4 linked regions of the Homo sapiens genome follow. The main gene of each other region encodes a partner of the protein of the gene in region 3 in a complex. Each region holds a gene or a part of one and is shown on either strand. Other genes may lie near its edges. A codon is read from its position in the direction of its gene.

What was found. The genes of interacting proteins can lie anywhere in the genome.
Region 1: the proteins of GNAI1 (region 3) and CCKAR are in contact, whole or in part, in a cryo-EM structure (PDB 7EZH), measured with the Homo sapiens proteins. Residues at the interface, in NP_002060.4 of Homo sapiens: Glu28, Ala31, Arg32, Glu33, Val34, Leu194, Thr219 (codon at 298), Lys314, Glu318, Ile319, Tyr320, Phe336, Thr340, Ile343, Ile344, Asn347, Leu348, Lys349, Asp350, Cys351, Gly352, Leu353, Phe354; in NP_000721.1 of Homo sapiens: Thr74 (codon at 1,693), Thr76 (codon at 1,687), Arg139, Ala142, Ile143, Pro146, Leu147, Ser149, Arg150, Val151, Ser156, Ser298, Asn299, Ser300, Ser301, Asn304, Ala307, Lys308, Val311, Leu315, Met373, Asn374, Lys375, Arg376.
Region 2: the proteins of GNAI1 (region 3) and HRH3 are in contact, whole or in part, in a cryo-EM structure (PDB 8YUU), measured with the Homo sapiens proteins. Residues at the interface, in NP_002060.4 of Homo sapiens: Ala31, Arg32, Glu33, Val34, Leu194, Thr219 (codon at 298), Lys314, Asp315, Glu318, Ile319, Tyr320, Thr321, Thr340, Asp341, Ile343, Ile344, Asn347, Leu348, Lys349, Asp350, Cys351, Gly352, Leu353, Phe354; in NP_009163.2 of Homo sapiens: Asn69, Asp131, Arg132, Ser135, Val136, Ala139, Val140 (codon at 2,467), Ser141 (codon at 2,464), Tyr142 (codon at 2,461), Arg143 (codon at 2,458), Ala144 (codon at 2,455), Gln146 (codon at 2,449), Ile221 (codon at 2,224), Ile225 (codon at 2,212), Arg228 (codon at 2,203), Arg232 (codon at 2,191), Phe344 (codon at 1,855), Thr345 (codon at 1,852), Phe348 (codon at 1,843), Arg349 (codon at 1,840), Arg352 (codon at 1,831), Asp353 (codon at 1,828), Lys355 (codon at 1,822), Val356 (codon at 1,819), Ser359 (codon at 1,810), Leu360 (codon at 1,807), His416 (codon at 1,639), His417 (codon at 1,636).
Region 4: the proteins of GNAI1 (region 3) and C3AR1 are in contact, whole or in part, in a cryo-EM structure (PDB 9IPV), measured with the Homo sapiens proteins. Residues at the interface, in NP_002060.4 of Homo sapiens: Glu28, Ala31, Arg32, Glu33, Val34, Lys192, Asp193, Leu194, His195, Lys314, Asp315, Glu318, Tyr320, Lys330, Phe334, Phe336, Asp337, Ala338, Thr340, Asp341, Ile343, Ile344, Lys345, Asn347, Leu348, Asp350, Cys351, Gly352, Leu353, Phe354; in NP_001313404.1 of Homo sapiens: Asn57, Arg120, Val123, Val124, Pro127, Ile128, Gln131, Asn132, Asn135, Val136, Tyr356, Ile359, Arg362, Met363, Arg367, Phe368, Lys370, Gln372, Lys374, Thr375, Val378, Ala379, Leu438, Gly439.

The regions. Positions count from the first base shown.
Region 1 is NC_000004.12:26,487,685-26,491,806, forward strand, and holds the start of CCKAR (cholecystokinin receptor type A), read right to left. Parts: upstream 2,801-4,122; 5' UTR 2,584-2,800; coding exon 2,472-2,583; intron 1,801-2,471; coding exon 1,549-1,800; intron 1-1,548. UniProt on the Homo sapiens protein: Receptor for cholecystokinin. Mediates pancreatic growth and enzyme secretion, smooth muscle contraction of the gall bladder and stomach. Has a 1000-fold higher affinity for CCK rather than for gastrin.
Region 2 is NC_000020.11:62,214,460-62,217,278, forward strand, and holds the end of HRH3 (histamine H3 receptor), read right to left. Parts: intron 2,468-2,819; coding exon 1,547-2,467; 3' UTR 948-1,546; coding exon of another isoform or gene 920-947; 3' UTR 501-919; downstream 1-500. UniProt on the Homo sapiens protein: The H3 subclass of histamine receptors could mediate the histamine signals in CNS and peripheral nervous system. Signals through the inhibition of adenylate cyclase and displays high constitutive activity (spontaneous activity in the absence of agonist).
Region 3 is NC_000007.14:80,207,831-80,211,330, reverse strand, and holds part of GNAI1 (guanine nucleotide-binding protein G(i) subunit alpha-1), read right to left. Parts: intron 363-3,500; coding exon 233-362; intron 1-232. UniProt on the Homo sapiens protein: Guanine nucleotide-binding proteins (G proteins) function as transducers downstream of G protein-coupled receptors (GPCRs) in numerous signaling cascades.
Region 4 is NC_000012.12:8,063,560-8,067,644, reverse strand, and holds the start of C3AR1 (C3a anaphylatoxin chemotactic receptor), read left to right. Parts: upstream 1-1,285; 5' UTR 1,286-1,367; exon of another isoform or gene 1,368-1,424; intron 1,425-4,085.

The DNA.
Region 1 (4,122 bases), on a different chromosome or scaffold from region 3:
TGAAATTTACATAACATAAAATTAACCTCATTTCAAACTGAACAACTCTGTGGCACTCACAATGTTTTGCCACCATGAAAACACTCATTTAAAATCTCGGTTCACATTCTCTGGTTAAGGTTCCCAAATAGTATTACCATAAGATATATATGGATGGGCCTCGGATGTCTACAGTGCTAGTTATTATTATTGCTTCATTATTTAACAACGATCTTTTTCCTTTGTAAGTTTTGTCTTTTTTTTTTTTTTCAGAGGACTTGGACATGGATTGACACATTCTTGGTTTTTGGTGGCACGAGGGTCAGTAATTCACCATCATTTTGTCAGTGTGGAATCCCACTTCCTCAACTGGGAAAAATGAGGACTTATAAGGCTTTCTGGTCATTGAAGACTGCCCTAGCCTAACTCAGTTCTGCATATTCTGCAAGGCTTGGGTCAGAACAAAAAATAACTCCCTTCTTATTTCCCATCTCTGCCCTTCTCCCAACTAATTCTCAGAAAGGGCAAGGGACTAGGCAATCTGGCACCCAGAGGGGACCAAGAAATGTGTTTTTTTGTTCAACTTTAAGAGAACCACAGCAGTTGGCAAACTGAGGTATCATGCTCACCATTGTGTGGCTACAAATCTGGACTCAAATCTCAGCTCTGTTGCTTACCATCTGTGTGGTTCTAGGCACATTATGGACCTCTCTGTGCCTCTGTTTCCTCCTTAGGGAGACAAGGAAGAATCATTGCATTTACTTCATAGAGTGGTTGGGAGATAAGGTAAGATCATGGAAGGCAAAGCACTTAGTACCACATGGGGTGCATAAAAGCGCTAAAAAAATTTAGCTCTTATGATTTTCATTATCATCATTTTTGTTTGGCATAGGCAAAGAGCTATATATCTCAGCCAATCAGGGTCAGCTTAGCGACCCCATAGCCCCCAGGAGCAAATTCAACTCCTCATCTAGGGGCAGAGACCTCTCTCTCTCTCTCTTTCTGCCAGAGATGGCCCCAGCTTTGGGGAGAACAGGCTGGGAAGTGAATCCTGAGAAGAGAATCTGAAACTGCGATAGAACTGGTTTTCAAATAGCCCCTGTTCCCTAAGAAAACAAAAGAAACAACTGCAAAGAACCCTCCTCCATCATCCTCACCCTCCCTAGAAGCCAGGACTCAAGTTGTGTATAGATCAGGACACAGTCAACAGCTTCCAGAAAGGGATAGAGCAGCTTAAAGTCACTTCTGACTTCAAACAGAAGCAAGCAAGTCCCTCTTCCCTTCAAATAGAAGCAAGCAAAATCAACTGCCCCTGTGTTTTCCTATCAATTTATTTCACTCTTAGAAACTGACCTCCAACATGGATGATGGGGACCGACTTGTGGGGAACGTATAAGGATGACTGTCAAGCCAGCACCAATGTCCGTGCACACAGCCATGCACAGCCTGATGTTCTGTGATTCAGCCCTCAGCAGGGCTCCTTTGCTGTGATTGTCAGAGGTTTGGGAAGGTCTGGGGCTGAGTGGGGTCTGGGGCAAGCTCCAGAAAGAGTCACCAGCAGCAACTTACCCATGAAGTAGGTGGTGGTCTTGCAAACGGCGCTCCCGAAGATGAAATCCTTGAGCAGATTGGGGATGAGGTTGAACGGCATGCAGAAGAGACAGAGCATGAGGTCGCTGACAGCCAGGGAGAGGAGGAAGATGTTGGTGACCGTCCGCATCCGCTTGTTCCGAATCAGCACGGTGATGACCAGCGTGTTTCCCAGCACGCTGAGCAGGAATATCAAGGAGTACAAGAGAATCTGCACCGCTGGCTGCCACTCTGCAGAGAGAAACAGGAGCAAGACGGAGGGATGGAGGTGATGACAGCAGAATGCTAAAACCGAAGCCAAGGGTGAATTCCTGCCGATTTTCCCCCCACCGGGGTGTACATCACTGGACCCACGATTCCTGTCCTGGCAACATTTTGCGGAAACAAATTGAGGAAAGCAGAGACTGAATTATTTTCTTTTTAGAAGGTTGGTTTGTTAAAGGATCACTCAGGGAACCACTTTTTCTTAAGAACAAAGCTCCTCAAGTGAACAGTGATCACTTTCTTTCCTGGCTGCTAAGCATTATTTCACTTTAATCACTTCATGCTGGGTTTCCCCCCAAGAAAAGAAAACAGCTGCATGGTGACAACACCTTTTCTGCTGTGCTTGTAAGTTCAGGCTTTGACACTTGTAGTCCCTCTTGCTTCACTCAGCTTTTCCTCCCCTGCTTTTGTTCCCCCAAGTCCTATTCATGAATGCCCAACTCCCCCATGGGGGACAATAAGAATATTTGACTCTATTCTGCTTTTTAATCTCTTCTCCAAACTTCTGAACATATGACTTTATCTAGCCTTGTCTCACAATGACTTGGTTATATATATTTTTTATCAGCCTTGCCTTTGCTGATTTCTCCCACAACTCAATAGTTTCCTGAATTAAAATAACAGCTTCCGACACTTACCTTTGGAAGGACGGGGCTGATCCAAGCAGAAAAGCGTCTCATTTTCGAGCCCGAGTTCACAGGGAGGAGTGATGTTGCTTCCATTCACAAGAAGGCTGTCAACCACATCCATCCTTGCCTGCTGCTTTCCACCAAGTGCTGGAGAGCTGGTGAATTGCTCACTCCCGGCTCATTCCTCTAATGACCGAAGCGTCTCGCAGATGCAACCTGCCGTGGAGGAGCAGGGAGGGAGTGATTTCCAGGTGTGGGCTTTTTCAGCCATTCCTAAAGGCGACTTGAGTTCACCTCACTCACTCCAGCATTTGTACTCCTGTTGTGGAAAAGGCAGTGAGCACAAGCCAAGCCCGCTCCACCTTCACCCCGCCCCACCTCCCCCGGCCCTTTCCTGGGCCAGTCTTAGGGCCCTGAGTACAGACAGCCTGGCTACCCGTTAACCATTCTCAGCGTGTGGCTGCTTTTTACACACATGTGTACATATGCACGGACACACACACACACACAGAGGCTTCCCCAGTACTCCTCTATATAGGAACCCGTCACCATCCCAGACATATGCAGAAGAAAGCCCAAACCGGCTGTGTGAGACAGGAACAATTAACACGGTAACAGATCCGATAATGCAGACCATCAGGCCTAAAGAACACGGAGGGACTGTGTTCTACCTCCTTATAGAAAAGCAATTAGTGCCTTTTTAGCTTTGGAACCATGCCCGGTGGTGTGTGTGTGGACAGAACTGCTGGCTGGTTGTTAAGTTGCTACTAAACACAGTGTTGTTTCTCGTGGTCTCTGCCCTTGTTAACTAGGATTGAGGCACTTTTGAACATAGGTACCTGGGTCCTTATTACAAAAGACGTTAGTGAGATTTCCTCTTCATTCATGAAGCCTTGCATTCAGCACATCTTCATTGAGAGTCAATCATTTGCCAGGCACTTTTCTAGCATGTCAGCAAATAATGAGCAGAATTATTTCAGGTAGTAAGTACTACAAAGGGAGTAAAGCAGGGAGATGTGATGTATACAAACAGATTAGGGGCTGATTTTTTGGGGGGCGGGGACAGGGTCTTGCTCTGTTCCCCAGGCTGCAGTGGAGTGGCGCGATCATGGCTCACTGCAGCCTTGCTCCCTGGCTCAAGCAATCCTCCTACCTTAGCCTCCTGAGTAGCTGGGACTACAGGCACACACCACTAAGCCCAGCTGATTTTTTTAGTTTTAGAAGAGAGGAGGTCTCGCTATGTTGCCCAGGCTGGTCTCAAGCTCCTGAGCTCAAGCAATCCTCCTGCCTTGGCCTCCCAGTGTTGGCATTACAGGCGTGAGCCACTGCACCTGGCCTGGGGCTGCTGATTTAGAAGGGGTAGTCAGGAGAGGTCTCTTAAGGAGGGGACTGTGATCTGAGACTGAACCACAAGAAGGACAAAGTCTTGTGAAGATCCCAAGACAGCTTCTCCCAGGCAAAAGGAGGAGCACTTTTAGCAGAGGTAACAGCAAGTGCAAAGGCCCTGAGGTGGGAATGAGTGTGGCCCCATTGAGGTACAAATAGATAGAAGTAGGAGTGAGTGAGAGGCAAACAGCAGGACGTGAGATCAGAGAGGGGGGCCATCTCAGGGTCCTGGGTGTTCCATGAAGCTCTGTGGTGCTGGAAAGCCCTTCAACCT
Region 2 (2,819 bases), on a different chromosome or scaffold from region 3:
CTCATCCCTTCTAGCAGCCCCTCCAGCCTAGCTCCAGCCAGCTAGCCCAATCCCTCCCCTCTGGTCACTGCAGTCCCTTTGCCACCCAGACCCTGCACACGCTGGGCATGGCCATGATCCTCCCTGGGTCCCAAGTTTTGCTGGGGTGCAACCCTGCTCCTGACCAAGAAAGATGAGGCACCTGTCCTGGGGGCAGGAAGGCTGCATGTCTGTGTTCTCAGGGCCAGAGCGGGCCCCTCCTGTGCAGGGCGTGGGCTGCATCTCCTCACCCGCCAGCCAGGTCTTGAGAAGTGCAGGGGTCTGGCGGTAGGGCACATGAAACCCTTCTTGGGATTAAACCCTGGTGTGGCAGGCTGGTCTTTCATCCCCACTGCAGTCCCCCGACTTAGAAGAAAACACAGAGCCCTCATCCTCACGCCTGCTTCTCAGTGGTTTCTGGACTCCCTGGAGTCTCTCCTCAAAGCACGAAGGCTCTGAGCACCCCACAAAGTCCTCAGGAATCAGCACCAATAAAAAAATACACTTTATTGTGACCTCACGGTTTGCAGGGCAGCGCAGCGGGCACAGGCAGAGGAGCATGCAGAGCGCGTGGCACGGGTGCACAGCACATGGCGAAGCGGCCCCTGCCCGGGCACCTCCTCTGGACCGCCCCTGCACGCCTTGGGACCCTCGGGCCCAGCCGGGCCCCCTCCTCCCAACAACCCCCAGAGGTCCTGGGTGAGCAAACAGAGTGGCCGGGGCAGGCTTGGCCACCAGGGCTGGTGTGAGCCCAGAGGCGGGGTGGGCAGAAGCAGCTGGCACAGCTCAGCCGGAAGCCTTAGCGGAGGGAGGAGGGCGTGGGAGCCCACACCTGCCAATCCAGCCCTGAGCTCCTCAGCAATTTTGTCTCTCTTGATTAAACATCCCAGGAACATCAAGTTCACAGACATGTTTTCTTCTTCATCTTTCTGAAAACACCCAGAATGGAAAAGCAGAGAACAGCTTCGAGGTTCCTAGGGCCCCTTGACACTTTTGGGGGCAGAGAGAGTTGGTGGGAAGAGGGGTGAAAGGGCCAGGCCTGAGGCTTATGCAAGAGACAGAAGGCAGCAAAGGCAGTGTCCTGGGCTTGTCCGGGGAGAGGGACGGTGTGCAGGTGTGTGCAGGGGTGTGCAGGTGTGTGCACGTGCAGAGGCAAACTGCTAGGGCAGGAAGCCTGGAGCACACCCAGGTGCTTGCTTTGGGAAGAACACCAACCAGTAACTGCGAAGGGTGGGCACCAGCAGGGGGTGGGCAGCATGTCTGGGACCTCCAGACTGTCCCTCCCGGTGGAGCCAGAATGTGGGGGGCAGGGCCGGCCACCCAGCCTCCAGTCCAGCCAGTGAGGGGCCCTCTGGCCAACCCAGGAAGGCGCCTCCATGGCAGGGTGGCTGCCGTGGCATTAAGAGAGGGCCACAGACACGGCGGGGCTCACCCCTGGGGGAACGAGCCGGGTAGGGGGCAGCAGGGCCAGATGCCCAGGAGACCTGGGCTGAGAGAGGCGTGGCTGAGGGAGGCTCTGGTGGGCCACTCACTTCCAGCAGTGCTCCAGGGAGCTGTGGGGCTGGATTTTGAGCTTCTGGGGGCAGAGCAGCTTGGTGAAGGCCCGGCGGAAGCTGTGGTGGCACAGAGGGTAGAGGACAGGGTTGACAGCCGAGTTGGCCCACAGGAGCCAGAAGGAGGTTTCGTACCAGTAGTCAGGGACGCAGTGGCCATGGCAGGCGGCCCGGATGATCATCAGCAGCGTGTATGGGGCCCAGCAGAGCCCAAAGATGCTCACGATGACGGCCAGCGACTTGGCCACTTTCCTGTCCCGAGACAGCCGAAAGCGCTGGGTGAAGCTCTGGGACACCATCTTCATGCGCTTCTCCAGCGAGGCCGAGGACGCCGACGGCTTGGAGCCCCTCTTGAGTGAGCGCGGCCTCTCAGTGCCCCTCGAGGAGCTGCCGGAGCTGGAGGTGGGTGAAGCCACGGAGCCGCCCCCACCGCCACCCCCGAGGGTCGCCTCCCCGGCCTCAGCGCCTACGGCCGCCTCACCCACCCCATACCTGTGCAGCGGCATGGCCTCCCCGTGCCCCTTCTGCCAGCAGCCCCAGCAGCCAGGCGGTGGGGGTGGTGAGGGCTGGGCCTCGGGAGGGGGCTCGGGGCCGGCTGCCTCTCGAGCCCCATCCAGCCGGAGGCGGGTGCGCCTCTGGATGTTCAGGTAGATGCTGAGGTTAAAGAAGGTGACGCTGAGGAAGGGCGTAAAGAACTCCAGGGTGGAAGCCGTGATGAGGAAGTACCAGTTGTAGAAGAACTCGGCATAGCAGTGGCCCTCGGGGATGGAGCTGCCCCCGGACAGGTACTCCCAGCTCAGGATGGCTGGTCCGTACAGCAGGAAGGCCAGCACCCACACCAGCAGCATCTTCCGCACTGCCCGCCGCGTGTCACCCTGCTGGGCCCGGTATGAGACCTGCAGAAGGGCAGGCTGGTCAGGGGCGGGGCGGAAGGAATATTGGGCTGGGTGCGCCCCCGTAGCCTGTGGGCCCCTATGTGGGCCCTTCCCTCAGCAGCAATGCTCCTCCTTTCCCCTCCTGTCCTCCCTCCCTCCCTCTTTCCCCTCCCTTCCTCTAACCCTCCCCACTGGGGTCCCGGACTGGTGCCCTGCCACACTCAGTGAGAGCCTCAGAAGCTCCCTGGGACCAACCTGAACCCTCACTCTCTGCTAGGCTGCCTGTTTACCACCCCCTACCAGCTGTGAGCTCCCTGGGGGTCCTGTCCTTGGCCCCTGCACCCTTGGGACCAGACTCAGCATCAGCCCCAGA
Region 3 (3,500 bases):
GATACAGAAATGCATAGTTAAGCTTACAGGCTTGAGGTGAGATTGACTCTCCATGTTTTCCTTTTCCTCAAGATCCACCTGTGCTTCTCTAGTATATCTCTCTTTTATCAAATAGAAAAGTTAGAGGAAAGACCCTGTACTTTCAAATTGTTATAGACATTAGAAAGAAATTCTTGGCAACACCTTCAGCTCTTCATGTTTCAAGCTCAACTCTTAAAGTAGTTCTACTTGCCATTTCTTCATCTTCAGCTAGAACCAGGTCGTAGTCACTCAGTGCTACACAGAAGATGATCGCCGTCACTCCTTCGAAGCAATGAATCCACTTCTTCCGCTCAGATCTCTGACCTCCCACATCAAACATTCTGTTAAGAGGAGAAATGAGTTAACATCACATTAAATGTTCAAAAAGCTCTGAGAAGTTCTTTAATGCTAACAAAAAAAGCTCTGAATAGTTGTGGAAATGTCTGATGAAAAGGAAGGAGAGAAGGACTTTATGGGAGAAAAAAATGTCACAAACTGGACTTCTCAAAAGGGGAAAAAAACCTGCTAGTTTTTAAAATTTTTGATTGAAGGGAGGGTATCTCTAAAAAAAAAAAAAAAAGCAAAAACAAAAATAACCTCAAAAAAACGAGACATTAACACACATGAGAACACTTAGAACATTAAAGCAAATACAAATGAATGGACTGCACTATGTGTAAACACTGAGAAGTCACATGAAGCAACTGGGGAATGCAGAGATCAAAGAGTAAATATTCCATTTGCCACAGTCACGGAACATTGAAGGCAGAGAACAGAGACCCCTCCTCCTACTAAAACATGTCGTTTTAACTCAGAAATAATAAGCAAGGCTTTGATGTAAAGAAGAAACCATTTCAGGTAAGAAAATGTAGGGCAAGCAAATGAAATTCAGATAGGGTAGGTTTGCATAAAAAGTAAAATCATGATACATTACAAAATGAGAGAACTGAAATATGAAATAAATGAGGGATCCTACTGAATGGCCTTAAAATTTAGAATGAAAAAAATTCAATTTTTATACAAGAGTGAACCACTATAGGTTAGTGAACAAAGTAGTAGCAAAATCAAACAATATAAAGACAATAGTCTATTCCTTTTCTCTTATAAGACTTTATAAAGTTAAGCAAAAGTTAAAATTTGCATAGACTACATTATGCAACCTAGAAATAACCACTTATATAATGAAAACACTATGCGAACTGGTACATTTTTAAAGGCTCCATTTATCTAGATGGTGCACTAATTAAAATAGTCCCTATTTAATTCCCAGGCAAAAAGAATTTTCCCTACAGAGCAGTACTGGCCTATAAACCAAATTTGAGTACATCAACTAGTATTGTTACTTTTATGATCACTTAAGTGGGCTTCTTCATTCTTTTGGCTTAGCTGGTACCATTGTTCATTAAATTCAGGTAAGCTATATAACAAAATGTTTCTACCACAAACTAAATCACAGAGTTAAGATGTAAAAAACATAGCTGGTAATAACGATCAAACAAGAACAAAATAAATGACAGTAAATTAAAATGATATAAATTGGGTTACCATTTGCTAAAATGCCCAGGAACACAATTTGAAAATAACTTTACTGAAAAGATAGCATATCTCAGATAACTTCTCTGATTAGATGTCACACATCCTCTGTCCATCCAATAACAGATGTCAATAACAACCCAAATGACCCTAGCCCACATTTCCTCTCTGTGATGGTATAGTTTTGTGTGTTAACTTGGCTATGCCATCATACATTTATCTAGGTGTTATTTAATGAAACACTTATTTAGATGTTGCTGTATTTTATAGATATGATTAACATCTGTAATCAGTTAACTTTAAGTAATGGAGACTATCCTTAATAATACAACAGCCCTCAATCACTCTACAGGCTAAAACTGGCAAAAACTGAGGTTTCCCAGAAGAAAATGTAATTCTTCCTCCACAATGTTATGACAATTCATGTCCAAGCTTGCCAGCCTACCCTACAAACTTCGGACTTGTTAGCCTTCATAATCCCATAAACCAATTCCTTGAAATAAACATAACCTACTGGATCTGCTTTTCTGGTGAATACTGATGATACAACTTTAGTGCAGAGAATGAGGTGCTACTCTAACAAATACCTAAAAACATGGAAGTGACTTTGGAATTGGGTAATATGTAGGAGGTAGAAGAATATTTAAGCATTTGACAGAAAATAAAACTACACTATCTTGAAGAGATTGCTGGTAGAAATAGGGAGATTAAAGACAATTCTGCTAAGAGCTGAGATGGAAATAAAGCTGGAAAGAACCTTCTGTTGTCTTAGAGAATACATGTATCATTGTGGACAGAATGTTGTAGATATACAAACGTTAAAGGAGCTTTTAATGAGGTCTCAGAAGGAAATGAAAACATGTTATTATACACTACAGAGAAGACAGTCCTTGTTATAAAGTGGCAAACAGCTGGCTGAACTGTGTGTTCCAGCGCTGGGTGGAAGGTGCAACTTCTAAGCAATGAACTTGGATATTTAGCTGAGGAAAACTGCAAGCAAAGTGTAGAAGGCTGCAGTTTCCTGCTTGCTGCTTATAGTAAAATGAGAGTGGAAGAGATAAACTGAGGAATGAACTATTAAGCCAAATGGAACCAGACGCACAGGGAAGGAGGACATGTGATGACAGGTGGAGAATGGTCATGGTCATAAACAAAGAACTCAGAGTCTAAGCTAGTGGTTCTCAAACTTTGATGTGATTCAGAATGTTAGGAGTCAGATGTTACTAGCTTGGGGGACCATCCTTTTGAGGATCAATTAATCCCCAAGTCAATTAATCCAGAAGCAACAATGACAGAGAACTGATATTACAAATGATCAAACTGCTTAAGTTTGTTGGAATTCAGAGAGAGCTAGATGAAGATAACTAGAAGAAACACTAATTTTTATCACTGCTTTCATTTTCCATATAATGGTAGCTAAAAATGTACAAGCATTATTCATTGCTCTACACTTATATTAGAAGTATCTTCATTATTTTATATACTGTTAAGTTCTGAACTTCTATTTAAAAAGAGCAAAAATATGGTATTTTCTCCTTCATATAAAAAGATAAGAGTTTAAACCAACATCACATAGGAAATGAATTTGAGTTTTCTTAGGGATTCTGAAGGGTGGGGTGGAAGGAGATGTTGGACATGCTGAGAAGTGATGATTTATGCCTTAGACTAGCATCTAATACCACTGTCACCAAAACTAACTGGTACAAAGCTAGCTAACCATATATGGATATCAAACTCATAAACTGGATGTTGCATTCCCAAATGCATAACGCATTTATACTACTATAGAAATGAAATAGAAATTTATCTCATATTATGATAATTTTAGGATAGAAAGAATGCTTTATATCTGACAAAAAAAAGTAAAACACAGTTGCTGATTCTTTAATTAAAGCAAAATGATCCACATAGACACTGGCCATAAATGCCTAATCACAGGGATAATA
Region 4 (4,085 bases), on a different chromosome or scaffold from region 3:
AAAAAAATCAGGAAGAATGAACACTAACCTATTAAAAATAGTTACTTCGAGCAGTGGAATTGAAAAGAAAATCTTTCATTTTTTTTACCCATTATAATTCTGTATTATTTCAATTTATCTCTTCTAGAACAAAGTATGTTCTATTTTTGTAATTAGATGATGACAATGGAAATAAACTAATAAATACTACTCAACTCTTGGCATTTTTCTTTTGATCTTTCTGCCTCAAAAATATTCCGTGGTGACTTGACTGCAAACAAGCAGAGGAGCAGATATTATGGTTTGGACAAGTTGATTAATATAGACTGAAGCCTATATCACAGACAACAGTGTTCAAATACATTTGACCCAAATAAACTTTATTTTATATGCATATATCTAAAAGAGTATATGCATATATCTAAAAGAATAATATAAGAATTATTTACAGCATAGTATTCATTAAGCAGGAATTACCTTCAGTCTTCTGTACTCCTTCCTGATGAAACAGCACCTAGACTCCAGCCTGTTCTCCAGTGACCACTAAGCTCTCCCACCTACCTCCCCACCTACCTGCCCTCTACCACCTACCTGCCTTTGACTAGGCTCCACTTATAGCCTAAGCAGCTTTTCACCTTTTTCTGTCTCTAGAATTCCTACAGGTACTTAATTAAGTACTTGCCCACATCTTATTTCTATCTTAAGACTCTCCTAGATTGCCCTGGGTTATATATACCCCTGGCTAGAGTGTTCTATTATTTTACTTCTATTGTTACTTCTATTATTATAGCCTAGTTTGTATTACAGCTTTGTGTGTATATGTATGGGTACATATTCCCACTCGATTGTGAATCTCTGGAGATTAGAATATAGCTTAATTCATCCTGATTTTGACATGGCACCGTTTTTCACATATATCAAGCATTTCAGATATGTTATTTGAGATTAATTAAATGAGTTTATTCAGGTCATTCCTCCCCAACCACTCCCCACTCCAACCCTCACATCTCATAGAGTCTTTTTTTTTTCATTTCTAAACAAAACCTATAAAGTTGAACCCTATGTACAGAGGTACCCTCTCTCTAACCATTCTCTGTGTGCTGCAGAAAATGTCTCAGGATTATAAACTCCTACTTCTGTTTTCCTGCTTTGCCTTTCTAAGCCATTTAGAAATGACTCACTTTGAAACTCTTCCTGTGAGGTCAGATAGTGGTCTAGAGCATAAGACTTAACTTATTGCCGGAAACAGAGAGAGAACAGAAGAAGAGAAAGCTCAGCAAATTTTCTTGCCATACTTCATGACTTCACTGTGGCTAAGTGTGGGGACCAGACAGGACTCGTGGAGACATCCAGGTGCTGAAGCCTTCAGCTACTGTCTCAGTTTTTTGGTAAGAAAACCTAGACCTACCTGATGACTTGTGCTTAGCCTGTTTTGCTCATTATAGGTAATGAGTTTGAGTGTCACTATCTTCTATTTCCCCTATTCCTTCTCTGACTTTGAATTCTTTTATCTTATCTCTATGTCTAACTTCCTTTTTCTAAATATTCCACATTGCATTTGTCTTTGCTTTTAATATTTTCATAGTGGAATTAATAGTGAATTTTTACATCATTTCTTTCCTTTCTTTGAATTGGCTATGTATTTCACCCTGAACTTTGATTCCAGCTGTCCCCATTAATTTGTTTTTCAAATAATTGATTGCACTTTTTTTCCCTTTCCATTTCCTCTTTCTTTTTTTTATTCTTTTGCCCATTCCTTATTGCTACTGACTCTGTTATCCTATTACTACAATTTGATTCTGGGGTCCACTTTTCTTTCTCTATCACAGTGGAATTTTAGTTTCAGGATATTAATTACCTTTAAATTACGGCTGGTCAACTTAGTAATAATTTTTTTTAATCCTCTACTAATCTTAAACACATAAAGGTATGGTATTTTTAGCCAAATTAACTTGAAGAAATGTAAAAAGTAATCTTGCTCTGCAGGACTTTTTTTTTTTTTTTTTTTTTTTGAGACAGAGTCTCACTCTGTTGCCCAGGCTGGAGTACAGTAGCATGATCTCAGCTCACTGCAACCTCCGCCTCCCAGGTTCAAGCGATTCTCCTGCCTCAGCCTCCTGAGTAGGTGGGATTGCAGGCACGTGCTACCACACCCAGTTAAATTTTTTTGTATTTTTAGTAGAGACAGGGTTCCACCATGTTGGCCAGGTTGGTCTCAAACTCCTGACCTCAGGTGATCTACCCGCCTCTGCCTCCCAAAGTGCTGGGATTACAGGCGTGAGCCACCACACCCAGCCTTGTTCTAAAGGACTTTTAATCCCTGACTCCTACATACTTTCATTTCAAAACAGATAATAACAATATTTAACATATAGCTCATGACAGATAACTCTATTTTTATTAAAATTTTGCTGTTTGCAGTCCCTGCTACTTCAGTTCATGCAGTTCTCGGCAGCTTCCCCTTTATTAGCAATACCATATATCTTTTTTTTTTTAATGTGATTTTTTTTTTTTTTTGGTAGTAAAAACAGCATTTGCCTAACAGTCCTCGGACCTGAAATCCAAGAACCTCCCTAGTAATGATTATATGCTTGTAATCTAATTTGCTGAGTTTCACTGTCAAACTTGAGAAATAAAAGCAGAGAAAACGTAGGCTGGGCACAGTGGCTCATGTCTGTAACCCCAGCACACTGTGAGGCCAACATGGGAGGATTGCTTGAGTCCAGGAGTTTGAGAGCAGCTTGGGCAACATAGCAAGACCCTATCTCTACAAACAAACAAACAAACAAACAACAACAACAACAACAAAATGAGGAGAGGAGAGATGATTACCAAGTTTTCTTTCAGCCCTAGCATCCCATGACTCTATTCTTCTCTCAATATTTTAGGGGGGTACCGTGATAGTATTTAAATATCTGAGTAGACAAGGCCATGGAAAGGGGAATGAGAATAATTTCTTCTTCTTTTTTTTTTTTTGAGATGGAGTTTTGCTTTTGTTGCCCAGGCTGGAGTGTAGTGGCGCAACCTCGGCTCACCACAACCTCTGCCTCCCAGGTTCAAGCGATTCTCCTGCCTCAGCCTCCTGAGTAGCTGGGATTACAGGCATGTGCCACCATGCCCACCTAATTTTGTATTTTTAGTAGAGACAGAGTTTCTCCATGTTGGATAGGCTGGTCTCAAACTGACCTCAGGTGATCTGCCTGCCTTGGCTTCCCAAAGTGCTGGGATAACAGGTGTGAGCCACTGTGCCCAGCCCATGTCTTCTTTTTTATTATTTTGTTGACTTGCTATTTTAACTTCTGCTAATCATATGAGGCCCTATGGCAATATTTGGCTGACTCAGCAGAACTACTTTCAAGTCACAAAAATATTTTGAGCCTCTATAAAAGTAAAATGTTATTTTATCCAGTAAAAATTAGGAATTTCACAAAAAGAAAGTTAAAAGGGACAGCATGGGAATTAAGGAAGAGGCCTGGGTAAGGATTACATGGATACAAATTAGAATTTTAGATGTAATTGCAAAAGAAAAAAAAAGTCAACCCCCAAAATGGGCATCCATCTATTCAAGTAATTTTTTTTTTCTTTTTTTTTCTTTTGAGACAGAGTCTCTTTGTCATGCAGGCTGGAGTGCAGTGGTGCAATCTCAGCTCACTGCAACCTCCACCTCTCCAGTTCAAGCGATTCTCGTGCCTCAGCCTCCCAAGTAGCTGGGATTACAAGTGTGAGCTACCACACCCAGCTAATTTTTGTATTTTTGGTAGAGATGGGATTTTGCCATGTTAGCCAGGCTGGTCTTGAACTCCTAGCCCCAAGCGATCTTCTCCCCTCGGCCCCCCAAAGTGCTGCGATTACAGGCATGAGCCACTGCGCCCAGCCTTTCCACATAATCTTTAACCTTGGTGTCTCATAAGGCATTATGTTAAATTATGTGAAATGAGCATTTATGAATAAGACTCCTTTTTACCATCATAAAGTTTAAATCCAGAATAATAGATTAGACAGCCATTATAATTATTGTACAAGATAAAATGTGTCATTGCATATAGAATATGAAAAAAAGGTTCAAACATGCGCACACACACAAATTAAGAAGCTGAAGACTTGGT